3 separate regions of the Homo sapiens genome follow, and regions 1 and 3 are each linked to region 2. The links come from fine-mapping of genetic effects on gene expression. A gene starts in region 2. Each other region holds a variant in brackets. All regions are shown on one strand. Distances are from middle to middle. Region 1 overlaps MAP3K14 (mitogen-activated protein kinase kinase kinase 14). Region 2 holds the start of FMNL1-AS1 (FMNL1 antisense RNA 1). Region 3 overlaps MAP3K14 (mitogen-activated protein kinase kinase kinase 14).

The links. PIP is the estimated chance that this variant, and not a neighbour inherited with it, causes the effect.
Region 1: its variant is fine-mapped to the expression of FMNL1-AS1 in whole blood (INTERVAL, PIP 0.96).
Region 3: its variant is fine-mapped to the expression of FMNL1-AS1 in whole blood (TOPMed, PIP 0.97).

What each region holds. Positions count from the first base shown.
Region 1 is chr17:45,284,011-45,293,952 of GRCh38, forward strand. MAP3K14 (mitogen-activated protein kinase kinase kinase 14) reads right to left here. Exons shown (of 16, transcript NM_003954.5): 2 at 6,480-6,755; 3 at 5,226-5,295; 4 at 3,144-3,354; 5 at 2,421-3,035; 6 at 802-939. The coding sequence starts at 6,735. Among named protein-coding and RNA genes, the nearest start is that of SPATA32, 27 kb to the left of the region's middle. RefSeq lists silencers at 6,461-6,664, 9,473-9,767 and an enhancer at 9,473-9,767. The variant C/T (reference allele first, on the strand shown) is at 6,048.
Region 2 is chr17:45,236,472-45,246,413 of GRCh38, forward strand. FMNL1-AS1 (FMNL1 antisense RNA 1) reads right to left here and starts at 5,299. Exons shown (of 3, transcript NR_186808.1): 1 at 4,640-5,299; 2 at 4,019-4,133; 3 at 1,547-2,770. It overlaps FMNL1 (formin like 1), which reads left to right. Exons shown (of 27, transcript NM_005892.4): 8 at 810-886; 9 at 1,075-1,168; 10 at 2,093-2,167; 11 at 2,484-2,594; 12 at 4,005-4,154; 13 at 4,658-4,759; 14 at 4,911-5,163; 15 at 5,376-5,675; 16 at 5,870-5,994; 17 at 6,647-6,849; 18 at 7,320-7,554; 19 at 7,705-7,773; 20 at 8,348-8,428; 21 at 8,508-8,637; 4 more. It also overlaps the pseudogene EFCAB15P. RefSeq lists an enhancer at 4,691-5,409 and a silencer at 9,007-9,177.
Region 3 is chr17:45,295,297-45,305,238 of GRCh38, forward strand. All of the region lies in intron 1 of MAP3K14 (mitogen-activated protein kinase kinase kinase 14), which reads right to left. Among named protein-coding and RNA genes, the nearest start is that of MAP3K14, 17 kb to the right of the region's middle. RefSeq lists enhancers at 391-450, 3,743-3,892, 7,633-7,682 and a silencer at 4,663-4,712. The variant G/A (reference allele first, on the strand shown) is at 3,844.

The DNA of each region.
Region 1 (9,942 bases), 48 kb after region 2:
CTGGGCCCGGATAGTGTGATCTGACAGGAGGAGGCCTCAGCTCCAGGCCCAGCATGCCACACTGTCCTCTCTGCTCTCCACTTCTAACATCAGTGAGATGAAGGGGTGGGAGGGGTGATTCCTGTCTTCTGTCTCTACTCAAAACTCTAGGACAAGAAGTCTATCTTCTTCCCTCTTCTTCCTGAAGAGTGGTTGAAAGCCGAACTCTCAGGTCAGACAGACCTGGTCTGATTCAGGGCTCTTGCCACCCGGCCAGTGACTTCCTGTCTTGCCAAGCTTCATGTCCCCAACATGTCTGTCTTGCAGGACTGTGGCACGCCTGGCCAACAGGGGGCACAGCTCCGACTCTGGCAGATCTGCCCACTCCCACTGAGGCTGGCTTCCTCCTAGAAGCACCCCACAGGTGGAGGCTACTGCTTTCCTATCATCTGGCCCAGGTCAGGGGCGGCCTCCTATGTGGTTCAGGGGTTTTACCTCAGTGTGAATTTCATGACGCTCCAACCATCTTCCACGTTGGGACTTGCCCCTCAGGCCCTGGCTGTATTGAGACACCGAGGCCACGTGTGTCCTCTCACACTGCCTCTCACATACACACATGCCAGGGGCAGCAGCCAGGCCAGGACACGTGACAGGCTGCTCCCTTCCAGTTCCAGCCGACCTCAGGTGGCTAGTGATAGCCAAGTTCTGTTCACAAGTCAGACCCACGGCCACCCTGCGACTGTCCTGGACAGAAAGCAGAGGGAACACACCAGGCCCCCTTCCTGGCTTCCCTCTTCACTCAGCCCCTGAGCCCTGGCGTACCTTTTTGACAGCGCACTGGAAGCCAGTCTGCTTGTCCTCCATCCTGTGCACCTCTCCGAAGGAGCCTCTGCCCAGGCGGAGCTGGTGCGTGGCCCAGTGGACTTCTTCTCGGTACTCATAATCCACTGGCTTGAGTTTCTGGGGTTGGCAGGAGAGAGAGGACAGTTTCAGTGGCCAGGGCAGCAGAGGGCTACAGGGCTACAGTGAGGAAGACTCTCCAGCTGGTGACCTTGCCAGGGCTGCTGAGCTGAGCCCTCACAACCAGGCAGCCCTGGGGCGAAGGCAGGGATCTGAGCCGGGCAGCACCAGAGAGGGGGCAGAGGAATGAAGTGAAGGCGAGGGAAGGGTTCATGGGCTGCGGCCACTGATCCTTGTGATGAAAAACATCCCAGACTTGTGATGGTGAGACAGAAACAGAACTGCCAATCACCTTGACAATGAAAAAACAAAACTCAGGAGCTAGAAGGTGGAGGGAAGGGAGGAACAGTGAAGAGGGGCGGGGGTCAAGGATGATGTTAAAAGTGGATGGAGGGGCCAGGCATGGTGGCTCACGCCTGTAATCCCAGCACTTTGGGAGGCCAAGGTGGGCAGATCACTTGAGGTCAGGAGTTTGAGACCACCCTGGCCAACATGGTGAAACCCTGTCTCTACCAAAAAACACAAAATTAGCCAGGCATGGTAGTGCACACCTGTAGTCTCAGCTACTCGGGAGGCTGAGGTGGGAGAATCACTTGAACTTGGAAGGGGGAGGTTGCAGTGAGCTGTTATAGTGCCACTACACTCCAGCCTGGGCGACAGAGTAAGACTCTGTCTCAAAACAAAACAAAACAAAAAAATTAAAAAATTAAAAAGTGGATGGAATAAGACAGTGCAGTGGCTCACACCTATAATCCGAGCACTTTTGGAGGCCAATGTGTGAGGATTGCTTTAGCCCAGGAGTTTGAGACCAGCCTGGGCAACATAGCAAGACCTCATCTCTATTAAAAAAAATATAGCTGGGCGTGGTGGTACACGCTTGTAGTCCCAGCTACTCGGGGGGCTGAGGCAGGAGGATTGCTTGAACCCAGGAGACGGAGGCTGTAGTGAGCTATGATTGTACGACTGCACTCCAGCCTGGGTGACAGAGTGAGACTCTGTCTCAAAAAACACATTTATTAAAAAAAAAAAAAAAAAGTGGATGGATGGAATAAAACCCGGAAATCAAAGTTTGATAAAATCATTTAAAGTTATAAAATTATTTGGGAAGTTAACAAGAGGAAAAAGGGAAGGAGGTGGGTGGTGAAAACAGGTCCCATCCTCATCTTCCGTCTCTGGGGGCCATGATAACATCTCCAGTGGCTCCTGGCTGATTCCCCTTGTCCTCAGCATGTGTACTATTAATGCAGTGCCCACATTCAGCAAGCAGGAGGTGACCAACCAGAAGAACTCAGAACAGAAGACGCTAAAAAGGCTGTGAGAAGTGAGATTGGCGGAATAAGAGATGATACTTTTCATCCACAATGAGCACTGTCCTACTGTTTGATTTGTCACCACAGGCAAGAGTGACTCTGATAAAGAGAGAAAAGCATCCCCCAGGTTGCTGGTAGAGGGACATATACAGGTGCCGGGGGATTAGTTACCTCAGTGAGCAGGACACCCTCGTTGTCCTCAGTTTTGGGGCTGGGCTCCCGGGATCTGGAGCCCCTTGCTGCCCAGGTCTTGGCCAGGCTGGTCAGGCTGTGGGCCTGGCCTGAGCTCACGCTGCCTTGCAGAGCATGCACTAGGTATTCCTCCACAGAAAACTTCTCATGGGCACCACGAGACAGGCAGCTGGGCTCCAGGTGTGGGCCAGGCAGGGGCTTTGGACTGTCTACACAGGCCAGTTTGCTCAGGTGTGGGTCAGGCAAGGGTTTCTGGCTGTCTACACAGGCCAGTTTGCCCAGGAAGGACTCCAGAGGGTGAGGTTTCCAGGGCTGGAGAGGGTGGAATGGGAAGGGATGAGGCAGTCTGCTATAGGGGAAGGGGTGCGTGGGCAGGGGCAGGGGGCCTCCGTCCTGGGGGTGGTGCAGTTTCCACACGTGGTTCAGACATTGCAAGGGGCTGATCAGTTTGTGGAGTTCTGATCGAGGCAGAGCCGGCCGTAGGCCCTCGCCAAGCTGCTTAAAACAGAGTTGCCCAAGGCCTGGTTCCTTCAGAGGCTTGGTGAACTGCGGGGTGTTTCTAACATATGGGGCGCCGAGTGGAGACTCATCCTCCTGCGGGGGGAAACACAGCTATCAGCACAGAGGGCCAGGGCCCAGGGACAGGCTCCAATTTCAAGGCCCCATGAACCTGGGGTCTGGGCAGTGGGTGGAGGGTCTCACCTGCACTGGGATGGTGCAGCTCTCCTGCTCAGGGGTCCTGGGGAGGGGTTTGGCCAAGGCCACTCCTGCATGAGCCAGGGACTTTGAGCTCTTCTTCTTCCGTTTCTTCCGGGCTTTGCTGCGACGCTTTCCCTTCCAACACACACGGGCCATTTTGCCCTCTGTAGCATGGGCCACATTGTTGGGGATCTGATCAAGACTCTCGGACTGGCTGTCACAAAAGGGACAGATTTGCATATTGAGCACGAGGAAGCAGGAAGATGGACTGGTCCAGACACTTGTATCTGGACTCCTGCAGATCCAAGGTCAAATCCCAGGTTGCCATTCCTTGTGTGAATGCGGCAAGGTTTCTAAATCCCAAGGAACCTGTTTTCTCACTTATCTCACTTATAAAATGGGTTTGGTATTTTCTGCCATACAGGGTGGAAATGAAGTTTCAATAATTTAGTTCATTTAAAAAGCCCAGCTCAGTGTCTGGCCCCAAGGCAAGCTGCCGAGAAGCTGTGCTTGTTACTATGGTGATGGGGTACAGACTCAGCACTTCTTGGGGAGAGTCAGGGGAGCAGACACGGTTCGCTCACTGCTCTCCAAGGTGAGCTGCCCCTGGAGAGTTCCTAGGAGGGGGCCACGCTCATGGCAGGCCTCTCAGCTCTGACTGAGCAGAGCTTGTTTCTGTTGCCTCCGGATGGAGGAACAGGTAAGGCTGGTCACCTCCATTCTCACAGTTCCTGGGGGTCCCTGGCTGCTGTTGAAGGTGAACAGCCTGGGCTGCTGCCTGGTACTGGGGAGCCTGCCCTTCTCTGCTGGCCTCGGGGCTCATCACTGCCATGGCTCTAACTGGACTGGGATCCCTGCCAAGTATTAAAGGACCCGGCAACAGATGGGTTGCTGCAGAACAGCTGTGGAGCAGATCATGGCCTCAGCCACCCTCCCTTGGCCTCATCTTCTGCCCCCATGGAGAAGGCAGACTCATGGCAGTCCTGGGGACCACTGGAGGCCTACAGGCTTCTCTTGGACAGCTGAAAGAAGTGTGTCTATCAGAGGCTCCTACCCTGGGCCAAAAGGCACCCAGGACAGCAGAAGGAATCCCACCAAACTGAGCATTTCTTGGTTCCAAGGCAGCCAGCTGCCCTCCCCACAATCTTATCACTAGCAGGTTCCAAACTCCAATGATACAAAACCTGCCTGGTGATAGGGGAAGGAGCTGTTTCTAGCTTGAACTCTTGTTTTTTTTTTTTTTTTTGAGACAGAATCTTACTCTGTCACCAGGCTGGAGTGCAGTGGCACAATCTCGGCTCACTGCAACCTTCGACTCCTGGATTCAAGCGATTCTCCTGCCTCAGCCTCCTGAGTAGCTGAGGTTACAGGCATGCGCTACCATGCCCAGGGAATTTTTGTATTTTTAGCAGAGACGGGGTTTCACCATGTTGGCCAGGATGGTCTCGATCTCCTGACCTCGTGATCCACCTGCCTCGGCCTCAGAAAGTGCTGGGATTATAGGTGAGAGCCATTGTGCCCAGCACTTGAACTCTTGTTTCAAAAAATCATCTGTGGGGGAATGCAGAGCCTGGGAACAGACTCAGCCCCACCCTGGCTTCCTTTCTACCGGGCCACCAAGTCTATCTGTCCCCTCCTTTTCTACCGCCCGCATCCCTACTCGGTGCATCTCCCAGGAGAAAAGGCACCAGCAGGTTTCTCCCATAGAGGACAGTGGAAGGCCCCCCCCACCAACCCGGCCTGCGCTCACGGTCACGCAAGAGTGGGAAGCAGCTTCTGTTCCCAGCACCCTCCCTGTTGATGGGAAACGAGGGGGTGCATTAAGGACTCTGAGGAGAATAAAAATAAAATGTCAAGTTGATGTGGCCCAGAGGCAGTCAGCCACAAGCTGTGAAAAGCCTTTGAAAAGCTTATTTGGCTGAGAGAGCGGCTCAGCCAGGAAAGCCTGGGTGAGTTCCAGGAGCTGAACCACAGGTGCTGAGGGAGGGAGCCCGGGGTCAGCAGGAGCGGCCCAGGCAAGTGCTGGGGACGAGGGCGCTGGGTCCAGTCCCCACCTTCCCACTCAGGCTTGTCTCCCCTGCTTACCTGTACTGTTTGGACCCAGCGATGAAAATGCGTTCTGAAAAGGTGGGGCTGAACTCTTGGCTATTCTCACCTAAAGCAAAAGGAGTTGGATTAGCAGAGAGGAGAAAAAATAGGAATTTAGCACTTAGGGGAGAGACATTTTACAGAGATCCCCTCTGGCGCCTCTCCTTCCCCTCCTTTCCAGACAACCCCTGTCTGGCAGTCACCTCCCCACCAATGCCTCCTTCCCGCACTGTCTCTCCCCAGCTTCTCAGCTTACTGGTCAAGAGCAGACCACGGCCTCAGCCACCTGCTCTGAAATAGCCAAGCCTATATTATGGGGATCACAGGGCGCCCGCCTCACTTCCTATGAAGCTGAAGTGAGATGATCTACAGAAAATGCTCAACACAGTGCCTGGCTCATAGGAAAAACAGCTATTAGGTATTTATATATGTGTGTACATATAAGTGTGGATATATGTGTATTTTTTTAAAACAATTATTATGTCACTCTCTGTATTTTAGTTTTTATTCTCTCATCTCTCCTCAAAAACCAACCAGGAGGAAGTGGGAGACGAGGGCAGGATGTATGCGTGTGGAGAAATGACAGCATGGCTGTCCAGCTCTCCAGGTTCCACCCCAAGAAGCCTCCCGGGTTGAGGGAAGGCGTTGGAGAGAGAGGACTCCCGGCCCTACCCAGGCCTCGTGGGAGTTTCTGTCTCCAAGGGAAGCCACCATTACTAGTCATCATAAGGTATCATGAGTAGAAGAAGAAAGGACCAGACTAGGTCTCACCCTGCAGCAGCCTGCCGCCCCAGGACTGGCCCAGCAGGCTCAAGAGCA[C/T]GGTGCTCATTCCTGGGGGTGGGGCCACCTCTAGGTGGAAGATGGTGAAGGCCCTACAGGCCCCAGTGGGGCTTTCCAGGAGACCTGGCCTTTCCTGTCTGGAGCCTCTCCAGACACTGGGGCTGCTCAAGGTCACAGCAGAAGGTTGATGGCCTGCTTGATGATTCTGCAGAGTCCCGAGTGCTCGTCTGTTACCTCTCTTCCCCTGCTCCAGTCACGATGGGCACAGTCTCCCCTTGCCACATCCACCATCTGTGCACTTTTACAACCCCACTTTCCATGATTCTCGGCACAGACCTCTGGTTGTGTCTCATGAGAATCTTATCTAGCAGTGACACAGACCTCTCTCCTCCATAGGGAACCCCTGGGCCCAGCTACCCACCTGCAGGCCCACCCACCTGCCCCGTGCCCACAACAACCCTAGGCCCCTACACTCAGCCTGGGCGATGATAGAGATGGCAGCTGGCCCTGCCTCGGAGCCTTCCTTGGCTGTGCCCTTGGTAATCACGTCATTCAGGATCTCCCACTTTCCGCAGAACACAGGGCTCTTCTCCACGGCCTCAAGCTTGTAGACGGAGCTCTGTTTCTTCCCCAGTGGCGGCGTCTTCTCCTTGGCTTTGGGGAGTTCCTTCTGCTGCCCCACTGCTGAGCCAGGGGCACCTGGGCAGGCCATTTCCATCACTGCCATCTCCCAGGCTTGTGCTCATCCTGAGAGAGACCAAACACAGAGCAGGTCACTTAGAATCCCAGACCTGGGAGAACACAGGTCAGCCTTGGGTTGGGGGAGAAAGGCAGGGGCAAAGGGTCTCTGCCTGTTTATGTGTGCCTCTGCCACACATACTCATCCTCCAAACATCCTCAATGGTAACAGAGTCCACCTCTCAACAGCTACACGTTCCACACGGCACAGTCCCCCGGTCCTCCCAGTACCACAACATAAACAGCCTCCTTCACTGTGTCCAGCAAGGATGCCAGCCCACTCCCTCTAGGAGAGCTGTGGCACAAATGTCTGGGTTGGCTCTTTCTTGCCTTTATGATGGCTCGATCTTTTTCTGTTGTTTTATGGCAAACTTTGTTTCCCCAGGACAGGGTGGTGAATCCCAGACTCCAAAACCATGGCCTCACTGACCCCACATAAGCCTTTGGAGAGGACCTGTTGGCACACACCATCCACAGCGACTTTTCTCCAAGTGGAGAGAAGCAAGGTTCTATTCTGTTCCCTAGTAGGAGGTAGATATCTGTGTGTGTGTGTGTGTGTGTGTGTCCTACAAAGTCTAAAACTCAGCATGCAAATGGTGCTCAGCACGTGGTTCCTTGCCCAATGCGTCTGTTTGTGGCTCTCCAGAAGGAACTAACATGCTTCCTCCTCTAATGTCCAAACTCATTGGCTGAAAACTTCTAGGTATCATTTTTCATTCAGGCAACATCAGGAGTAGAATTTATATTCAAGGCCCTAACACGAACCTATACCTCTAGAAATAAAGAATAAAGCATAAGAATTCACGTCTCTCTGGGTTCTGTCTTGCCCAGCCCTAGGAAGCTGCAAAGAAGAGCAACCCAGAGTTGCCAACAATCTGTGCAAACAGCCTGCAGACTGGAATTGGCAAAAAAGAGAAGAGCACTGATTTGAGACTGTTACCATTTGGAAACCTTTTTAAAGGCTGGGAGTTTTTAAAGGGCAGGGCCCCTCTCAGGCATGACTTGCTTTAGAAACAGCCTGAGAAGGTCCCAAATGCAGACAGATTTTTAATAACTGCTCTCTGATGGTAGGTTTGTCTTAAAGCTGCTACCAGCAGAAATCATCTTCCTTGCTATAACTCTGTGAACCCTGGATCACTTCTCTGCTTCTGGGGCAGACAGGTACACCATCTGAAGCTGAACTCTAAGGCCTCTGGCCTTTTGCCCTGTGAGGCCTGAGGACTGAATGAGATGGTGGGAAGCTGAGGTACTAGGTTGAAGCATTCCTCCTTCTGAATCTGCCTCACTGGTCTTCCCACCTCGATGGCTATGAAAGGCTCTGCCAGCTTGGCTGGCGGGTGTGGTGGGGTTTGTTGTTCACTATTGATTAGTTCCTTGCATCTCTGTCTTTAAGGGTCTCCTAGCTCTGAACTTGGAGCAGCTCCAGCTTCCTGCAAGGATGCCTGGATTTGGTACCAAACGCCAGATGCTGAGGAGGCTGAATGGGTGGCCTCACTGTTACCTGAGGATCTTAAGAAGTCTGAGGGGGCCGGACATGGTGGCCCATGCCTGTAATCCCACCACTTTGGGAGGCTGAGGCAGAAGGATTACTTGAGCCCAGGAGTTCAAGATCAGCCTGGGCAACATGGTGGAACCCTGTCTCTACAAAAAAATACAAAAAATTAGCTGGGGTAGCTGGCCTGTAGTCCCAGCTACTCTAGAGGCTGCGGTGGGAGGAATGCTTGAGCCCAGGAGGTTGAGGCTGCAGTGAGCTGAGATTGCACCATTGCATTCTCCAGCCTGAGTGACAGAATAAGACCCTGTCTCTAAAAGAAAAAAAAAGTCTAAGGGGTGTTCTGACATCCAATTAGGCAAAAGCCCTTCAAGGCTGGCTATGCTTCTTGTAACTGTACTTTCATCCCACCTCACACCTCCCCACCCCACTCTACCTCCAAAAAAGAAACTGACCTAAGCCCAGAGCCGATCCCACTGTTCTCAGCCTCTTTACCAGGGGAAATGAGATCTTAAGAACAGACCAAAAAGTCTCCAAACCTAACAGCAGTAGGGAATGCTCACAGGGAGCTCGATGTGAGCGTGACCTCCTCATTTCTATTTGAAGAAGCTGAGGCCTAATTCAGTGGAGACTTGCCCAAGGTCACCCAACCCACGTGTGACAGGACATGGCCAGGATCCAGACCCTAGGTTCTTTAGGCTATGATGCCCACTCCCCAAGCTCCTGGGTTACAGGCAAATGCAGGAGGGCACACTAAGGTCCTCCCTGGTCAACAGGCTCCTGAGGGAAGAGGTGGGGCCCTGCACACAGTGCCTCCCCAGTGTATAGCACAGGGGCCACAGACCACGCAACTGACGCTGGCTGAACGAGGGACTCAAAGGACAAAGATTGCTTTTCCATAACCTTTGGAGACAGGATGATCCCGAATGCTGAGGAGGAAGAGAGAGTCCTGCCTGATGAATGAGAAAAATGAGGCCAGGTGGTGCAGTTGCTGCTCTGAGGGGCACGTGGCTATTAGAGATCTGGCTGTGTGGGGGCTCTGATAGCCTGTCTCCGCCTGGCATGGCCCAACGGAGGCTTCTGGATAGGTCATCCTGAGCTAGAACTCCTCCAGAGGGGGTGCAGGGCATCCCGAGTCCCAGAGTTGTCCTTTCATATTGGTGTTAGGTAGGCAGCTGTCCAGCGCCCCTCTGTGAGCACACCAGGCTCCCCTCTTCCCAGAGAAGTGGAAGCTGAGGCTGAGGCAGCCACGCTCAGAGACTCCTTTGCAGTTCCCCGATGACTCATCCAACAGCCTGGCAGGCAGACAGTAACAAGGAGGCTGTTGAGAAGCTGACCCAGCAGATGGCAGCTGAACTTGTGAAGGACATGGGGAAAACAGGCTGACCCTCACCTCTCAGGGGCACAAATCACGGCCTGGGAGCTGTAAAGCTCCTCCTGTGGCTGGCTTTTCTGTGCCACATCACCATGACTCAGACCCTCACCGACAGCCTCCAAGTTCAAGAGGCTATTCTTGGGACACTTTGGCCTGACAGTGGCTCTCCCCAAACACCACCTCCCACACAGACACACATGCACACACACACATGCACACACAGACACACACACATACGGATGCACTTGCTCCCTCCCTCCTTTCCTAATTCTATCTGGACTCTGGTCTACAAAAATCATGGTTCTGTACTAAGTCCAGGACTACTGGCC
Region 2 (9,942 bases):
GGGCATGAAGGAGCCTCACATAGGGACTGGGCTCACCTACCAAGAAGGGCTGGCCGGAGGGCCAGGGGAGAACAGCCTCGGGTCGATTCATTTGGAGGGCTGATGGGTGAAGCTGGGTCCTCCTTTACTTAGCCCGCCTTTAAGCCAGCTTCACGGTTTCCAAGGTGCCTGATGCTGGCTTTTGGAAACACAAAGGTTTTTAAAAAGAGGCCAGGTGCAGTGGCTCATGCCTATAATCCCAGCACTTTGGGAGGCCGAAGCGGGAGGATTGCTTGAACCCAGAATTTGAGATCAGCCTGGGCAACATACTGAAACCCCATCTCTATGAAAATAAAAAAATAAAAAATAAATAAAGAGAGGCCAGGCGTGGTGGCTCATATCTGTAATCCCAGCACTTTGGGAGGCCAAGGTGGGCAGATCACCTGAGGTCAGGAGTTTGAGACCAGCCTGGCCAATATGGCGAAACCCCGTCTCTACTGAAAAAAATACAAAAAAAATCAGTTGAGTGTGGTGGCAGGTGCCTGTAATCCCAGCTACATGGGAAGCTGAGTCAGGAGAATCACTTGAACCCGGGAGGCAGAGACTGCGGTGAGCTGAGATGGCGCCACTGCGCTCCAGCCTGGGTGACAGAGGGAAACTCCATCTTGAAAAAAAAAATAGAAACAAGGCCAGGTTTTGGTGGCCACAGAAGTTGCGGTTGGATACAAAGAACTTCCTAAACTCGAGGGCAGTTAAAGATCCACGTGGCGTGGGTGCCTGAAGTCCTGGGGGGCCCTTCCTGGAGACACTGACCTCTCCTCTCTCCCCAGTCTGGCTTCAGCCTTGTCATGAACCACCCAGCCTGTGTCAATGAGATTGCTCTGAGCCTCAACAACAAGAACCCCAGGTGAGGTCCAGGCCCCAAACCTTTCTCCGTATCTAGAGTCTTCTCCTACTTAGCCCCTTGCTTACTCTGTCCTCCAGGTCTCAGAGGCTCATTCTGCACCCACTATGCTCCTCCTAGCCAGGCCTGTGCCCACCCTTGCCGCGGGTCCTGCCTGTTCTCAAGGGACAACCTGCCCCTTCTCTCTCCAGAACCAAGGCTCTGGTGCTGGAGCTGCTGGCGGCCGTGTGCTTGGTGCGGGGAGGACATGACATCATCCTTGCAGCCTTTGACAACTTCAAGGAGGTACCGGAGTCCCTCACCCAAACATGCATTTCCCCCTATGGTGTTGCTTGGAGTCTTGTTGTTGGCAGTTGTGGCCTTTGCTGGAGGCAGCTGGGGACATTGGGTGGGCATTTGGGGAACGCCCAAAAGTTGAAGTTGAGCCACATCACTGGCTCAGCAATCTGGGATGGGGAAGTTCTGAATGGAAGGTACAGGGTCAGGTAAGGGCACCACCTGGGTGGGGGTAGGGACAACTACAGGGACCTGCTGAACCTCTGACTCAGCCTTGCCAGATCCAAACTAGCCTTGGTTCATACCTCCAGGAGTTGCGGACTCTGGCTAACAGGCTTGCAAGAAGTAGATGTGTGGGGCTGCATAAGATGCATAAGACAAGATATCTTCATTCATTCATTCCTTTAATGAATATTTATTGAGTGCCTACTATGTGTCAGGAACAGGGCACTTGGGCACATCAGTGAACAAAGGAAACCATATAGGGAAAGACAGAAACGATATAATAAACAAGCAAATTACATAGTATGTTAGGAAATGATAAATGCTGTGAGAAAAAAGCCAGCAATGTTGCAGAGGGAGGGGGAATTGGTTGCAGGGTGGTCAGGGAAGGCCTCACTGAGCAAGTGAGATTTCAGCAAAGCTGTGAAGGAAGCAAGGGACTTGGTGTGGGAGTGAGGGCACTCCAGGGAGTTGGAACAGTAAGTGCAAAGGCCCTGGGGTGGGAATGTGCCAGGATGCCAGTGTGGCCAGAGTGGAAAAAGTGAGGGAGAGTGGGAGATTGAGAGGGAGTGGAGGTTTTGAGCAGAAGAGTGACGTGGCTCAACTTAGAATTAACTGGAGAGGAGCCTGTTGAAGCACAGGTGTGGCAGCCAGAAGGTAGCTTAGGACGTGTGTCACTGGGCCTCAGTGAGAGCCATTCCCCTTACCCAGGTGTGTGGGGAGCAGCACCGCTTTGAAAAGCTGATGGAATATTTCCGGAATGAGGACAGCAACATCGACTTCATGGTGAGCTCAGGAGCCCAGCAGCCTGAGGCCTGGGCCAGGCCCTCTTGGGTGCAGGGAGCAGCTAGGGTCCTGGGTGCTGGGCAATGGGCTCTGCCCCCGCAAAGCGTAAGGACTGAGTGGTCAGTAGGGGAAGGGTGGATGTTGGCAGGGGGCTGGATTGAGGGAACATGGAGGTGAAATGTTGGGCAGGCCAAGGCTGGGAGTTAGTGGAGTGAGAACTGTGGAGAAGGAGGGAGGCTTGGGGTAAGTGGAGGTGGAAGGCATTGAGCAACCCCACCTAGAGGATCATAGATCTCCCCATGTCCCTGGCTCCCAGGTGGCCTGCATGCAGTTCATCAACATTGTGGTACATTCGGTGGAGAACATGAACTTCCGTGTCTTCCTGCAATATGAGTTCACCCACTTGGGCCTGGACCTGTACTTGGAGGTAAGCCCTGTACTGCCCCCCAGACTGAACTGCCTGCCCACGGCAGAGTATGGCTGAGTGGTTAGCAGCATGAGTGCTGGGGTCAGGTAGACCTGGGTTTAAATCCTGGCTCTGCCGTTGCCTGCCGTGTGACCTTGGATAGGCCTCTTCCTCTCTCTCAGTGTCAGTTTTGCCATCTGTGAAATAGGAGAATCATAGAAGATAATCTTGACTCTAAATGCATAGACCAGTGCCTGGCACATACCAGGCCCCCAGTCTATGGAACTGTTTTTGCAGGCACCAGAACAGGTCAAGGTAGCCCAGAGTCTGGCTCTGGGAGCACCAGCCTCAGACAGGTGCTCTGACTCCAGCATATAATGGGGAACCCAGAGATACAGGGTAGAAGCAGGAGTTGGCTCATGCTGGATGGGCCCAGGACATGGAGGAGTTCCCTGCCCTGGGGAAGGTGGGCAGAGCTGCTTGGTGCTTCCTGGCCCAGGCTGAGCAGAGAAGCTGCAGCTCCTTCTCTGCTTCCTTTGGGAGGTTTCCTGGAGGAGCGGGGCTTTCGGGGTTGGATTTTTGAAAGCCAGGATTAACAAAAGGTAGAGAGCAGGCTGGCGGGGGGGTCTATCTGTGCAATGGAGTATTATTCAGCCACAAGAAGGAATGAAGTATTGACACATGGTACAACATGGGTGAGCCTTGAAAACATGCTAAGTGAAAGAAGCCAGACACAAAAGGTCACGTACTCTATGATTGCTTTTTTTTTGAGATGGAGTCTTGCTCTGTTGCCCAGGCTAGAGTGCAGTGACACGATCTTGGCTCACTGCAACCTCTGCCTCCCGGGTTCAAGTGATTTTCCAGCCTCCCCAGTAGTTGGGATTATAGGTGCCCACCACCACACTCGGTTAATTTTTGTATTTTTGGTAGAGACGGGGGTTTCACCACGTTGGCCAGGTTGGTCTTGAACTCCTGACCTTAGGTGATCCGTCTGCCTCAGCCTCCCACAGTGCTGGGATTACAGGCATGAGCCACCTCGCCCAGCTATCTATGATTGCTTTATATGAAATGTCCAGAATGGGTAAATCCATAAAGATGGAAAGTAGATTAGTGGTTGCCAGGGACTGGGGGAGGAGAGAATGGCAAGTGACTGCTGACGCCTGTGGGGTTTCTTTTTGGGCTGATGACAATGTTCTGGAATTAGATAATGGTGATGGTTGCACAACCTTGTGGCTATACTAAGAATGACTGAATTGTACACTTTAAAATGGATTTTATGATTTGTGAATTATATATTAAAAAATAAAGAAAAAGTAGGCTAGGGCTCAGGCCCCTTCCTCTGGATGGCAGTGGTGGCAGGGGGGTGGTTTGGAAAGACTCCCCCCCACACACACACCAGGCCTCACCCCACTCCTTCCATCTGGGGGACAGAGGCTTCGGCTCACCGAGAGTGACAAGCTGCAGGTGCAGATCCAGGCGTACCTGGACAATATTTTTGATGTGGGGGCGCTGCTGGAGGACACAGAGACCAAGAACGCTGTGCTGGAGCACATGGAGGAACTGCAGGAGCAAGTGGCGCTGGTGAGAGTGGGTCCTGACCCCAGCCCAGCACATCATAGGCCCACAGGGCACACGGGCCACAGGGCCACGCAAGCATGGGCACTGGGCAGCAGACAGTGTTATAATTGTGCATTGGAGGTGCTGCCTGCCTGGCCCCAGAGCCTGGCCTGAATCCAAAGCCTGAATCTGTTGGGTGTCTTTCTCAATGAGTGTGGGTGAGCACCCTCACTGACAGGCCCCTCCTCTACCCAGGCTCAGACCCCAGGTGAACTGAAATGGGTGCCTGGGGCCCCTCCCAGCTCAGTCTCCTCCTCTCCCTCCACCTCCCGCATCACTGGTACCTTGGTTTCCTCTCCTTATTTGCTTGGGTTCGAGTGCCAGGCTCGGCCCACCCTTGGCACCTGGGCTGAGCGGATCTGGGAGCCTCCCCCAGTCTTCCAGGCAGGCATGCCTGATGCCGCCCCCTCACCGGCGGTGCCAGTGCCGGGCTGCGGGTCGGGGCTCACCATGTGCTGGTGCTACAGCTGACAGAGCGGCTTCGGGACGCGGAGAACGAATCCATGGCCAAGATTGCAGAACTGGAAAAACAGCTAAGCCAGGCGCGCAAGGAGTTGGAGACCCTGCGGGTGAGGCTGGGGCGGGTGGTAGGCCAGGCGCCCAAGAACAGGCCAGCTGAGGCTTCTAGGCTTGACATCTCCCTCCACCCCGGGAAGAAGATGGAGGCTTGGTGCCAAGGAGCCTGCTGGTGGGCACTGACCCCTCCCGTGGGGTTCGTAGGAGCGCTTCAGCGAATCGACCGCCATGGGGCCCTCCAGGCGTCCCCCAGAGCCTGAGAAAGCGCCTCCCGCTGCCCCGACGCGGCCCTCGGCCCTGGAGCTGAAGGTGGAGGAGCTGGAGGAGAAGGGGTTAATCCGTATTCTGCGGGGGCCGGGGGATGCTGTCTCCATCGAGATCCTCCCCGTCGCTGTGGCAACTCCGAGCGGCGGTGATGCTCCGACTCCGGGGGTGCCGACCGGCTCCCCCAGCCCAGGTGCGCAGGAGCTTCAGGCTGGCGGGGATGCGGGGCAGGGTCTGGAGGGGAGCCCAGGGGCATCTGTGGCGGGCAGAGTTGGGCGAGGGAGGTTTGGATTGTAGGCTCGGCTCAGGTAGGAGCGCATGCGTAGAGCGGAGAGGCGGAGAGGGGCCCACCCAAGTCAAGGAGCTGACTCGCGCCTCCCCCACGCCGCGCCCTCGCTGGCTCAGATCTCGCACCTGCAGCAGAGCCGGCTCCCGGAGCAGCGCCACCGCCGCCGCCCCCACTGCCCGGCCTCCCCTCCCCGCAGGAAGCCCCGCCCTCTGCGCCCCCACAGGCCCCGCCTCTCCCTGGCAGCCCGGAGCCCCCGCCTGCGCCGCCGCTGCCCGGAGACCTGCCGCCCCCACCCCCGCCACCGCCACCACCTCCGGGCACTGACGGGCCGGTGCCTCCGCCGCCGCCGCCGCCGCCGCCGCCTCCCGGAGGTCCTCCTGATGCCCTAGGAAGACGCGACTCAGAATTGGGCCCAGGTGAGTGGAGTGGACCACCTTGGGCCCGGGGCTGGGGGGAGATGGAGGGAGGGGCCTGGGCCTCAGTGTCCTCCAGGGTCCTCTGCCTGGGGGCCTCCTGCTGCCTCCTGGCTGCCCCATCAGCCCTCCCTGGGCCCAGGTTCCCTCCAGTAGTACCCCCAGTGCTCACCACTGCCCCCAAACCCCCGTCCCAGGAGTGAAGGCCAAGAAGCCCATCCAGACTAAGTTCCGAATGCCACTCTTGAACTGGGTGGCACTGAAACCCAGCCAGATCACCGGCACTGTCTTCACAGAGCTCAATGATGAGAAGGTGCTGCAGGTGAGTGGCCCTGCCTGGCTCCCCATGTGGGCACCGGAGGAAGAGGGGAGTTGCCTGGATCAGGCTGGGCCCTGGGGGTAGTCATTTTCTCCAAGCCATTTCACAGATGAGGAGGGGGAGGCCCAGGGATGGGCATTAAGCCAGACTGGACCAATACCTCTAACAGGCAGAATCCTGCTTTCCCAAACGCCTTCCCCTCCATCCCTGCAGAGGGGTGCCTCCCCTCACCCCACTTCTTCTGCCTCCAGGCCTCTTTCCTTCCACTTTCCCACAGGCAGCCAAGGCTTCAGCCCTCCTGATTCCACTTCCAGTTTTCCAAAAGGATGTATTCTCTTGCCTCTAGGCCATTGTTCCATTCTGTTTCCTCTGCCTGGAATGTCTTTTCCTTTCTCCTTTTTACCGCTGGCCAGTTCAGCTCTTCCTTTAGCTCTTGTGGCCCCAAGTCTGGATCCCCCGGGTTAGGCGGCCCTCCTCCTCCAGGCTCCCTGTGCTTCCCCTGTGCCTCCCATCAGGGCCTGTGGTCAGGCTGGGTTACTGGTTCTCTGCTGGTGGCCTGGTCAGGGCCAGATGGATGGCTCTAGCACTGTGCTCAGCCAGGAGAGTGCCAGACCCCAGCCCCACCCAGCTCCGCCTCCTCACCCTGTACCTTCAGGAGCTAGACATGAGTGATTTTGAGGAACAGTTCAAGACCAAGTCCCAAGGCCCCAGCCTGGACCTCAGCGCTCTCAAGAGTAAGGCAGCCCAGAAGGCCCCCAGCAAGGCGACACTCATTGAGGCCAACCGGGCCAAGAACTTGGCCATCACCCTGCGGAAGGGCAACCTGGGGGCCGAGCGCATCTGCCAAGCCATTGAGGCGTGAGTGTCCCTGTCCTGGGTTTGTGGGCAGTCCGGCCCCTTTGCTAGGCTGGGGTTGTCAGGCAGATCCTAGTAAAAGAGCCTCAATGGTGAGCTCTTTCATCAGGCTTCATACCAACCCTGGTCCAGGAAACTTGTCCCCATTTTAAGGTGGAGAAAACTCAGTCCATGCCTAAATTAGGATGTCCCACTTCCTCCCTGCCTCTTTGCCTAGCTGTGAGCACCCAGGCTGTGGGATTTACAGCCGGGCGTCCGCCGCTGACGTACGATGGGGACCCTGGCTGCCCAGTTCCCAGTTTCTCTGGATTCCCAGTTCCCAGTTTCTCTGGATTCCTACCTCTTGCTCTCTGAAGCTGTTGGCAAATAGAAAATACTGAAATTCATTTATTCAATCAAGGCAGGGGTAGCCCTGCTCCCAGGGACTGGTGGGTATGGATGATGCCCAATCTCCCCTCTCCTCCCTCTCACAGGTACGACCTGCAGGCTCTGGGCCTGGACTTCCTGGAGCTGCTGATGCGCTTCCTGCCCACAGAGTATGAGCGCAGCCTCATCACCCGCTTTGAGCGGGAGCAGCGGCCAATGGAGGAGCTGTCAGAGGAGGACCGCTTCATGCTATGCTTCAGCCGCATCCCGCGCCTGCCGGAGCGCATGACCACACTCACCTTCCTGGGCAACTTCCCGGACACAGCCCAGCTGCTCATGCCGGTGTGGGCGGAGCGGGCAGGGCGGTGTGACTTGGGAGGGGATGGGCAGGAGGCAACTCCCAGCCTGGGCTGCGGCAGGGAACCTGGGAGTACTTGAGCCTCCAGATGGAGGAGGCTCCAACTTATCTTACCTCCCCCATCCCACCCCCAGCAACTGAATGCCATCATTGCAGCCTCAATGTCCATCAAGTCCTCTGACAAACTCCGCCAGATCCTGGAGGTGAGGGGCCAGGAGGTGGGGCCCACCCTTGCCTGTTCTGGATAGTGTGAGAGGGAGACCCAGGCCCTGCTCACCTGCAATGCAACAAAGATAACATTCCCACTTCTCATGTACATGCTGAGAAGGACAAATCTAAGGGTGGTGGCGAGTGGGAAGGGGTACAGCAGCCGTGTCTGTAGCAGCTCACCTGGGACCCTGCCGGAGGGCTCAGTCCCCTTTAGCGTTGCTCTGTGAGCAACCTCACCTGCTCAGTGGAGGGCCCGGGAACCAGTAGAAATGGCTGGTGGACAGGCAGTGACCACACAGACTAGGAGGGGATGCTGGCAACAAGTTGTGGGTTGGACTAGCAGAGGACAAAATTTGGTGTGCCCATGGTGTTAACCGTGCACATGTGTGAGACCTGTGTGTACACACATGTACATGTGCTGTGGATCTGAGGGGCCTGTGCAGGAGTACAGTAGGGGCTGAGTGTGTGGGGCCTGCTCCTTGCCACCTCTTCTCCTCCTTGTGCAATATGCTTAAGCGGTGTCCTCAGCTCTGGCATTCTGCTGAGCCTTTCTCCTGCCTCTCCCAGATTGTCCTGGCCTTTGGCAACTACATGAACAGTAGCAAGCGTGGGGCAGCCTATGGCTTCCGGCTCCAGAGCCTGGATGCGGTGAGGAGGGGCCCCTGGCTTGGGGACTGGGGCTGGGGACTGGCTGGTGGCCTGTGGCTTACAATGGGTCCTTGTGCAGCTGTTGGAGATGAAGTCGACTGATCGCAAGCAGACGCTGCTGCACTACCTGGTGAAGGTCATTGCTGAGAAGTACCCGCAACTCACAGGCTTCCACAGCGACCTGCACTTCCTGGACAAGGCGGGCTCAGGTAGGAGACACACAGATCCTTGGGTGTGGGGAGGGGCCGTGGGCTGGGGTAGGTTGGGAGAAAGCTAGGGGGCCACAGTATATAATTGGTGGGAGGGCTGCCTCTCCGATTCACTGACCTGATACTGCCCCATCCCTGGCCCAGTGTCCCTGGACAGTGTCCTGGCGGACGTGCGCTCCCTGCAGCGAGGCCTAGAGTTGACACAGAGAGAGTTTGTGCGGCAGGATGACTGCATGGTGCTCAAGGAGTTCCTGAGGGCCAACTCGCCCACCATGGACAAGCTGCTGGCAGACAGCAAGACGGCTCAGGTGCGCCAGGGCTGGCCTCACCTGGAGGTGGGGCATGTAGGAGCACTAGATAGCACAGCCTGGAGGGGTGTGGCCGTAGCTGGGACCCCTTGGGGGGATGCAGCAGGAATGAGGGGCCACCCTGCCTGGGAGGAGCTCAGATCAGGTGGCCAGTGTCCTGAGGGGTACAGGCTGTGAGAGGTCTAAGCTGGGGGGCTGACAGGCTGTGCCCACAGGAGGCCTTTGAGTCTGTGGTGGAGTACTTCGGAGAGAACCCCAAGACCACATCCCCAGGCCTGTTCTTCTCCCTCTTTAGCCGCTTCATTAAGGCCTACAAGGTATTCGGGTCTGGGGCAGGCTGGGAGCCCTGTAGGGCACTGAAGCCTTTCTACTGGGCAGCGGAGGGGTGGGGCTGCTTCTGTTTAGGGGGTGGGTAGGGCAGTAGGGAGGGCCACCCTCATGGAGACTGCCTTGGCCCACAGAAAGCTGAGCAGGAGGTGGAACAGTGGAAAAAAGAAGCCGCTGCCCAGGAGGCAGGCGCTGATACCCCGGGCAAAGGGGAGCCCCCAGCACCCAAGGTAGGCAACTGCTCCTGGGCTTGGTACTGGGCTGCAGGGATGCATGGCATCTCATCACCCTCTGGTGCCACCCCCACACCCTCACTGTTACAGACTGACCCTGCCCCAGGAGCCTGGGATGGGAAAGGGTTCTTTCTGCTCAAGCCAGCTGTCCTTGCTGTGGGGGACCAGGCAGATATTCCAGGGTTTTGGTGATGGGGAGGCATCCTGGAGCTGGAGCTATAAATTCCCCCTAGTCACCGCCAAAGGCCCGGCGGCCACAGATGGACCTCATCTCTGAGCTGAAACGGAGGCAGCAGAAGGAGCCACTCATTTATGAGAGCGACCGTGATGGGGCCATTGAAGACATCATCACAGGTAAGGGCTTGGCCAGGCCTTGGTCTTATCCTCAGTCTGTCCTTCTATGCTTTCTTCTGACCCAATGCGCTATCCTCTGGGGG
Region 3 (9,942 bases), 59 kb after region 2:
AAGAACCAGATGCATGCAACTGGCATGTAACTCACATTTGAACCCGCTGCCCTGGCTGAAGGAGCTCCACATGCTCAGTGTCCCTTCATCCACCGAGGACCTCTACAAAATCCCTAGTTCTCCAAGAAAAGAGTTTGGAAACCAGCGGCCTAGGAAATCTTTTGAGGTTCCTTCTAGTTCTGAGAATGTAGCCCATCTGTCAGGATTCTTTGAGGGCTGGACAACTCCAACTCAGAATACTAACTGTCGATACTTACAAAGTACCTACTGTCATCTCATTTTCAGACATGAAGATATGGCTTAGGGAAGTGTAGTAGCACACCAAAAGTTACGCAGTTGCAGGTTGCAGAGGTGGGGTTGAACCTAGACTGCTGCCTCCTAAGCCGACATCTAAACCTTGAGCTAGCCACTTCTTTTAACTTCTCTGAGTTTCTTCTCTTAGCTCCTTCAGAGCTGTTTTGAAGACCGAATGAAGACGAGTACATGAAATGCCAATCAGGTTGCCTGGCCAACAGAAGAGGCTAAATGAATGTTCATTCCCTTGTCTGTCACCAGGCTACTAAAAGCCATCACTGAGAAGATGGGACTTCTCTGTTTCAGCACCATATAGCCAAGGTATCTTGAGCCTTACCTAGTTCATGCAATGCTTGGAGCCTTGATTCTCCATACACGAAAGGGAAATAAAACTCTGTCTTACAGGGCCAGCTTGAAAATGTCTACAAGGGGCCAAGGCAAATCCCTCTCATGACTATTTCATCTGGAAGTAAAAACTTGTCCTTCTCTGAATGCCCAGAGGGGATAAATAGCAGAAGTAGAATGACTCAACTTCCTTAATAAGATATTGGTTGAAAACCAATCTTCTCCCAACTTCCTCTTTTAAGTCTTCAGCTTGCCTGGCCACCAGGCCACAATAGGCAAACCTCTGCCTACTCAAAGTGCGGGGCTGGGCTGGGTGCGGTGGCTCACGCCTGTAATCTCAGCACTTTGGGAGGCCAAGGCAGGAGGATCACTTGAGACCAGCAGTTTGACACCAGCCTGGACAACATAGTGAGACTTCATCTCTACAAAAAATTAAAAAATTAGCCAGGCATGGTGGCACACGCCTGTAGTCCTAGCTACTTGGGAGCCTGAAGCAGGAGGGTTGCTTGAGCCTGCAGTGAGCCATGACTGCACCACCGCACTCCAGTCTGGGCAACAGAGCAAGACCCCATCTCAAAAGGAAAAATAAAGAAAGAAAGAAAAGGAGGGGAAAAAAAAAGAGGGAACCAAGGGCAAGTATCAGGCAGAGCAAGCTGGCCTGGCAAAACAGCCATCTGGCGAGGCAGACTCAGAAGTCCCCATACATGCTCATCCTGACTCCCCTTTCTACCCTTTCTGCCCTTCCTACAGCCCTTCCCCCAGTTTGTTCCAGACTGATTCCTTCACTTGCCCGAGCAGGGCAGCACTGGGCAAGCCTCTGATTCTCTTCTTCTGCCCACCCTGTTCCTCCCATAGGGAGTGGCTGCTTGCCTTCCTCCCTTATCAATGTCTGCCCAGATCTCACCTATCCTTTAAGGCCTATCTACTCAATGAAGCCTTTTATGGTAGGCTTCTGCATCCACCCTATAAACATTCAATGAGTGTCTCCCAAGTGCCAGGGAATGTAATAGCCACTACCGTCCATAAATGTCTTCTGTGTATGGGGCACTGTGCCAGGAACTCTATCTGCCTTGTTAATGCATTCCACACCAACCCTGCAAGGTTGGCAATATTATCTCCAATTTTACAGATGAAGAAATTAAGGCTTAGAGAGGTACATTACCTACAGGAATAAATGAGGCTCAATTTATACAGTTAGAGCATCCAACATGGAGTTAGGGCTCAAGCCAGGACACTCTTGGCCCATTCTCTTAGGACCCAAGGATCTCTAGTTCCTTCCTAGAATAAAATCTGGTTGGCAGAGGCATCTAGAACATCCAGGAACTGAGCAGTATTACTACCCATGTGGATATTACTACCCCTAGCATCTGCCCATCTACTGTTGGTAATAATTCCTTAGCCCAGGTAGACAGGAAGCAGACGAAGATCCCTTACTGATGAGGGGTCTTGTCAAGTCAGGGCTGAATCAGCCATCAATTTGTCAGACTTTTAGTTCAGTTACGCCACTAAATCCTGTTATGTTATGTGTTATGACTTAACTTGATGGTTTTAACAGGTCGTTTCATTTTCTTGAAACAATCAAACAAATGCACATCTAATACACACATACACAAACAGGAGTTCTAGGTAAGGTGGCACTGCCTTCACTGAAAGAACCACTGAAGGATGTACTTTGCAAAGAAAAAAGTAAATAGGAAAAAGAAACAATGGTAGGCACAGGAACTCAAACAATATGTTGGTCAATTTAATTAACAGTTGAATATGAGAAATTGGTTTAAATCTTTTTTTTTTTTTTTTTTTTTGAGATGGAGTCTTGCTCTGTCGCCCAGGCTAGAGTGCAGTGGCACAATCTTGGCTCACTGCAACCTCAGCATTCTGGTTCAAGTGATTCTCCTGCCTCAGCCTCCTGAGTAGCTGGGATTACAGGCATGTGCCACCACATCTGGCTAATTTTTGTATTTTTAGTAGAGATGGGATTTCCCCATGTTGGCCAGGCTGGTCTCGAACTCCTGACCTCAGGTGATCTGCCTGCCTTGGCCTCCTAAAGTGCTGGGATTACAGGCATGAGCCACCATGTCTGGCCAGTTTAAATCGTTTTAAAACATGAAAATCTAGACACCAACAATAAGGAAGATGGGTGAAATGGGTTGTTCAATGGGTAAAAAGTAACATGATCCTTGCCTTTTTGGGGACTTTATGTACAACAACTTTTAAATTTTATTAGAAAAAATTACAGTTAGTATGTATGTTGATTTAAGAGTAATGACTAAAATAATAGAAATACAATTCAGACCAGAAGAATAAAGGAGGAAAAATAGAAAATGCTGTCAATCTGATACAAGGCAAGGCAAGGAGGAAAAAAGAAGCAAAAAGGACAATAAATATAAAATAAAAACACAAGATGGCAGAAATAAGGCAAAATATTAGCATGTCATTAACCACAGTACATGTGAGTAGATTACAAAACAGCAAACCAGATTGGATTTTAAAAGATCCAGCTAGATGCTGACTAAAAGAAACAAAACAAAATTATCCAGAAAAGTTGGAAATAAAGACATAGAAAGAGATGTGCCAGGCCAATATTAACCACAAAGAAGTAATATTCGTATCAGACAAAATACTTAAGACAAAAAGATATAATCACTTCTAGGCACCCGATAAAGAGCCTCCAAATCCAATGACTGGAGGCAGGCTGAGGCTTTATGTTGAGTAAGGTCTTGGCCCCAGAGTGTCCTGTCTAGCTGCAGAGCAAGGATCTTATGCGTGGCAGTTCCTGGGCATGTACTAGGTCTGCTGGGTGTTGGGCCCCGTGCTGAGTGCTGGCAGTACACTGAGGAAGAAGACACTGTCCCTTGAGGATCTTACAGTCTACTGGGGGAAACAGACAAGAAGTCAGAAGAGTTCAGTACAATACAGGGATGCAATGACAGAGATAGACACACAGCAGATGTGACGGGAACACAGAGCGACACCTAGTCCAGCCCAGGAGGTGATGCCTGAGCTGAGTCTGAAGCAGTGAGCAAGACCTGCCCAAGAAAAAGGAGAGGGTGTTCTGGGTAGAGGGGATGGCAAAAGGTAAGGCACAGAGGTGAGTCAATGCAGCAATCACCAGCAGCTTGAAGTTGTCAGTGAGTAAAGCGTAAGTCAGGCAGTCCCAGGAGAGGAGGCTGCAGATGAAGTTCAGCTATCAGACCATGGACACAC[G/A]CTTGATCCTCATATACCCCCAGGGTTTAAATTCTCAGATGAGTGAGCGGGGTATAATTCCACATTCCTCCCAGACTCTTGGGGGTAAAGTTCCAGATGGCAGAAGCTGCAGAGTAGGGGCAGATGGCACTGGCCAGGCACAGTGCCTCATTCCTGTAATCCCAGCATTTTGGGAGGCTGAGGCAAGAGGATCACTTGAGCCTGGGAGTTTGAGATCAGCATGTATAACATAACAAGACTGTGTCTTTATGAAAATAAAAAAAAAGAAAAAAGAAAAGAAAATCCTGCCATTGGTACAGAACCCCCACCCTGGCCTGGGCTAACAATCTGACAAGTGACAGGCTTCTGAAAGGCTTGCTTCACTCTCTCCCTCAGGCGGAGAAGGAGAATGGCCATGTGATCCCTGGGACATAGAAACAGATGTCTGAGGAAGGAGGAAGGGGCCTTACTGGGGCCTGCACTCAGGCACTGTGAGTGAAACGCAGCTGGAGGAACCTCAGAACTGGACTCATTGGCCTGCTTGAGGCCTGCTTCCCAGGAGAGTAATTTCTGAATAAGCATTTCCCATTAAGGAGGATATGAAATGTGAAGGTACATTAATCATTAAAATCTTACAGATCAATTATTAAAAAGAAACAAATCTGACATGCCCTCAAAAACTCAGTCTCGGCCAGGCATGGTGGCTCACGCCTGTAATCCCAGCACTTTCGGAGGCCGAGGCAGGTGGATCAGTTGAGGTCAGGAGTTCAAGACCAGCCTGGGCAACATAGTGAAACCCTGTCTCTACTAAAAATACAAAAATTAGCCAGGCATGGTGGCGCGTGCCTGTAATCCCAGCTACTCAGGAGGCTGAGATGAGAGAATTGCTTGAACCTAGAGGTGGAGGTTGCAGTGAGCCGAGATCGCGCCACTGCACTCCAGCCTGGGCAACAGAGCGAGACTCCATCTCAAAAAAACAAAACTCAGTCTTGCTGCCAATCCCACAGGTCAAACTGCAGGGTAAATACAATTTATGGGGTAAAGTTTCTGACTGTCCTGCAATTACCACCACATGCCTGATGATGGCTGGCCGGCCCTAGCCGTGCAGAAACTACTGTCTATAAGGCCCCTTCAGATGTTTAGGGCAATTCCCTCGCATCTATTCTATTGGCATTGGTCTTACCCACTTCCAGCTTCTCTCTGACCTCCCACCCTGGCGCTGAGCTAATCTTGAAACATCGTGTACTTAAGACAACCTCAAGCTCAAAGACATCTGCTGGCTCTGCACTGCTTATGGGCTCAGTCTCAGCTCTGTGGTCCATAATCTTTTTGGCCATTGTTTCCCCAAACATAGGGTTTGGCTTTGGCCAGTCTGATCTCTCTACAACCCCTTGGCTACTCAACTCTCCAGGTCCCATGTGTGCCATGCTGTTGTGTGGGCCACCCCATACATCCTGCTTGTCCTTCAAAGGCAAGGCTCAGCCTCTACCCAGGAAGTTCCTCCCATCAGCTCCACTGTACAACGGCCTCCTTTTCTGCCTGCCCACAGCACCTTGTCTCCTCTATCCTCATCCTCCTCCTGGTCCTGACACCCCCACTCCCTTTTACTCATTCAATGAAACAATGTAGATGAAGGAACTCTGGGAACAATAAAGCATCATAGCAAGTGAAGATACCCACTTTTTGTGTGCACAACTCACAGAATTGCAATCTAAGTAGGGAACAAATTAAAAAAAACAGAAAAAAGCATAATCAAAAATGTTTAGGGCTGAGCATGGTGGCTTATGCCTGTAATACCAGCACTTTGGGAGGCCAAGGCAGGAGGATTGCTTGAGTCCAGGAGTTTGAGACCAGCCTGGGCAATATAGTGAGACCCCATCTTTACAAAAAAATACAAAACTTAGCTGAGCATAGTCACACGTGTCTGTAGTTCTAGCTACTCAGGAGGCTGAGGTGGAAGGATTGCTTTAGTCTAGGAGTGCAAGGTTGCAGTGAGCCATGATTACGCCACTGCACTCCAGCCTGGACAACAGAATGAGATCCTGTTTCAAAAAAAAAAAAAAAGCCGGGTGCCATGGCTCACGCCTGTAATCCCAACACTTTGGGAGGCCGAGGCAGGCAGATCACCTGAGGTCAGGAGTTTGAGACCAGCCTGACCAACACAGAGAAACCCCGTCTCTACTAAAAATACAAAATTAGCCAGGCATGGTGGCACATGCCTGTAATCCCAGCTACTCAGGAGACTGAGGCAGGAGAATCGCTTGAACCTGGGAGGCGGAGGTTGCAGTGAGCTAAGATCATGCCATTGCATTCCAGCCTGGGCAACAAGAGCGAAACTCCATCTCAAGAAAAAAAAAAAGTTCACAGTATTTCTATAACAGTAAAAAAACTGGAACAAAAAAGTCTAATTACAGGGGAAGGATAATTATTAAATAAATCATGGAACATCCATTAAAAATGTTTATAAATCATTTTAACAATATGGAAAAATGGGATATTAAATTAGTAGAAAGAGGATACAGAAGCATATCTAAAATACGACCCTATATACATGTGTCGGTATATTACAATGATATTTATAAAAATGCAGATACCTAGGACATATAGCAATGGTTCTCTTTTGGTGGTGGGCTTATGGATGATTTAATATTTCTTTTTATACCTTTCTAATTTTTCCACTTTTTCAGTGAGCACATATTAGTTTTCTCAGTTCTCTTTTTTTTTTTTTTTTTGAGATGCAGTCTCACTCTGTCACCTTGGCTGGACTGCAGTGACACGATCTCAGCTCACTGTAACCTCTGCCTCCCAGGCTTAAGTGATCCTCCCATTTCAGTCTCCCAAGTAGCTGGGACAGGTGCGTGCCACCACGCTTGGCTAATTTTTTGTATTTTTGGTAGAGACAGGGTTTTGCCATGGTGCCCAGGCTGGTCTTGAACTCTTGAGCTCATGAGATTCACCTGCTTCAGCCTCCCAGAGTGCTGGCATTACAGGCATGAGCCACTGCGCCCGACCTTGGTTCTCATTTTTAACAGATAATGTTTCTAAGTGGTTAAAAAAAAAAATACAGAAGGGGTGCCATTGAAAAGCATGAGTCCTTCCCTCCATTCCTATAAGGGGATCCCCGTTAACAGTTTCTTGTATCTCCCTCTACTGATTTTCTCTGTAGGTATTACTTTTATTCATTTTTATTATTGTTATTATTTTTATGAGATGGAGTCTCACTCTATTGCCCAGGCTGGAGTGCAACGGTGCGATCTTGGCTTACTGCAACTTCCGCCTCTTGGGTTCAAGAAATTCTCCTGCCTCAGCCTCCTGAGCAGCTGGGATTACAGGCGCCTGCCACCACACCCGGCTAATTTTTCTATTTTTAGTAGAGACCGGGTTTCACCATGTTGGCCAGGCTGGTCTCAAACTCCTGACCTCAAGTGATCTGCCTGCCTTGGCCTCCCAAAGTGCTGCGATTACAGGCATGAGCCACTGTGCCCGGCCAAGTATTACTTTTTAATCATGAAAACAACTAAAAAAGAATCTCTTGGCATGGGATGAGAATTTAGGAAGCATTAGGTCCACACTTGAGATTGGGGCTTTATAAATATGTGATGAGCTGGTTTCTCCAACCGTGTGCGCGCACATGCACACACATGCAAGCACAAACCCATGTGTGGGCAGGAAACTTCACCAGAAAGTCTGTGGCTCTTCTGTTCTGCTCACTGAGTTCTGGCAGCTGGGCCGCAAAACAGAAGGCTGGAGATGGGCAAGCTTGTCCTTCCTGGTTTTGGTTTTCATTTCATTCCCTCCCTTGTTCTCTGCTGAGGACTGAGAGTTTTATCAGTTGTGACTCAAGAAATAGGAAGGTGCTCAGAAGATGCGGACTGTTTCCTGCTTTGATTTATCGAATGGCAAATGCATGCGTGGTTACAGGCCCGTGCTAGTGCTGGATGGACCACATGCCCCTGGGCAAGAGTGGCCCCCCAGAGTGAAAAACAGCAGAAGTGGACCAGGGAGAAAAAAACCAGCCCTTCCTCCACTGCTTGCGCAAAGGGGTGGGAATCGCAGGGTTAGTCCTAGTCTGGGAAACCCAAGGGAGGACAGTTTTCCTAGCTAGCCTCTCCTGCCTTTCTTATATGTGATCTTTAACCTTGCTTAAAAATTTTTTTTCAGGCCAGGTGCAGTGGCTCATGACTGTAATCCCATCACCTTGGGAGGCCGAGGTGGGTGGATCACTTGAGGTCAGGAGTTCAAGACCAGCCTGGCCAACATGGGGAAATCTCGTCTCTACTAAAAATACAAAAATTAGCTGGGTGTGGTGGTGGGCACCTGTAATCCCAGCTACTTTGGAGGCTAACGCAGGAGAATCACTTGAGCCCAGGAGGTAGAGGTTGTAATGAGCCGAGATTGCACCACTGCACCCCAGCTTGGGCAACAGAGTGAGACTCCATCTCAAAAATTTTTTTCCAATACCAAAATAATTGTTCATTGTAAAAATGTAAACAAAACAAAATTGTATATAGAAAAAAAATCCCGGCACCGTCCCGTCCTCTCTGCAACATAAAAAACACTTAAGTTTCATGTAAATCCTTCTAGTTCCAATTACTATACATATATAAACATATAGTTTGGGACTTTTTTTTTTTTTTGTATTTTTAGTAGAGACGGGGTTTCACCGTGTTAGCTAGGATGGTCTTGATCTCCTGACCTCGTGATCCAGCCGCCTCGGCCTCCCAAAGTGCTGGGATTACAGGCGTGAGCCACCGTGCCTGGCCTAGTTTGGGACTATTTTTAAAAGAAACATGGATTATACACATGTAATGTCATACAAATTGTATCTTTCACTTAAGATACTATGAATACTATTCCATCTCAGCACATTTAGATTTATTTCTTTTCTTTTCTTTTTTTTTTTTTTTTTTTTGAGACGGAGTCTCGCTCTGTCGCCCAGGCTGGAGCGCAGCAGCCCATTCTTGGCTCACTGCAACCTCCGTCTCCCGAGTTCAAGTGATCCTCCTGCCTCAACCTTCCGAGTTACAGGCGTCAGCCACCACATCCGGCTAATTTTTGTATTTTTAGTAGAGACGGGGTTTCACCATGTTGGTCAGGCTGGTCTTGAACTCCTGACCTCAAACAATCCACCCGCCTTGGCCTCCCAAAGTACTGGGATTACAGGTGTGAGCCACCATGGTTGACCTCTAATTCATTCTTTTTAAGGCTTCATAAGATTGGAAGGTACAGATGTATCATCATTTTCCCACCTGGAAACTTTGTTTCCAATTTTTCACTTATACGTAATAATGGAAAAAACTCTACCCTTATTCACATTTATGTGTACATGTAGAAGGAATTCTAGGTGGTAAGCTCTTGGGATTGGAATTTCTGGGTGACTCTTTTGTTAATGGGTTATATCTTTTCTCCTGTTTCTATGTGTCAGAGAAGTAGATAGCATCAGATAGGTGGTTTCCAAACATTGTATTATTTATTTGCTGTGAAGATGCTATCCTTGCTTTCAACATGCCTATAGTCTAGATGGGGAAAAAATGGGTAGATGGATAAATAAATCATAAAGGAATAATCAAAGTGCTCTTAGGATCAGAAAGACCCTCAGAGGTAATTTCTTCCAACATATTACTTACTAATCCTGAGGAATGGCCATTCAGCTACATGACAGGATGGCCTTGGAGTCAGAAGATCTGAGTTTGAATCTTAGTTTCTCAATACTCTGGTGTGTGACCATGGGCAGGTCACATAATCTGAGACTCAGGAGTCTTATCTGTAATATAGGGATCCTCAAACCTACATGATAGAATTTTACACGGTGACTCAATGCAAGGAACAAAGTTTAAATTACATAGCACAGTGCCTGGCATGCAGTGGGCACTCTGGAAACATCAGTGGAACCTCCAGTGAGATGGAAGCCGCTACAAGATGAGCAGTCAGACCTTTGTATGACTGGAAGTGTAAGATTTTTTTTGGTTTTATGTTTTTTTATTTTTTTTATTTTTTGAGACGGAGTCTTGCTCTGTCGCCCAGGCTGGAGTGCAGTGACGCAATCTCGGCTCACTGCAAGCTCTGCCTGCCGGGTTTACACCATTCTCCAGCCTCAGCCTCCTGAGTAGCGGGACTACA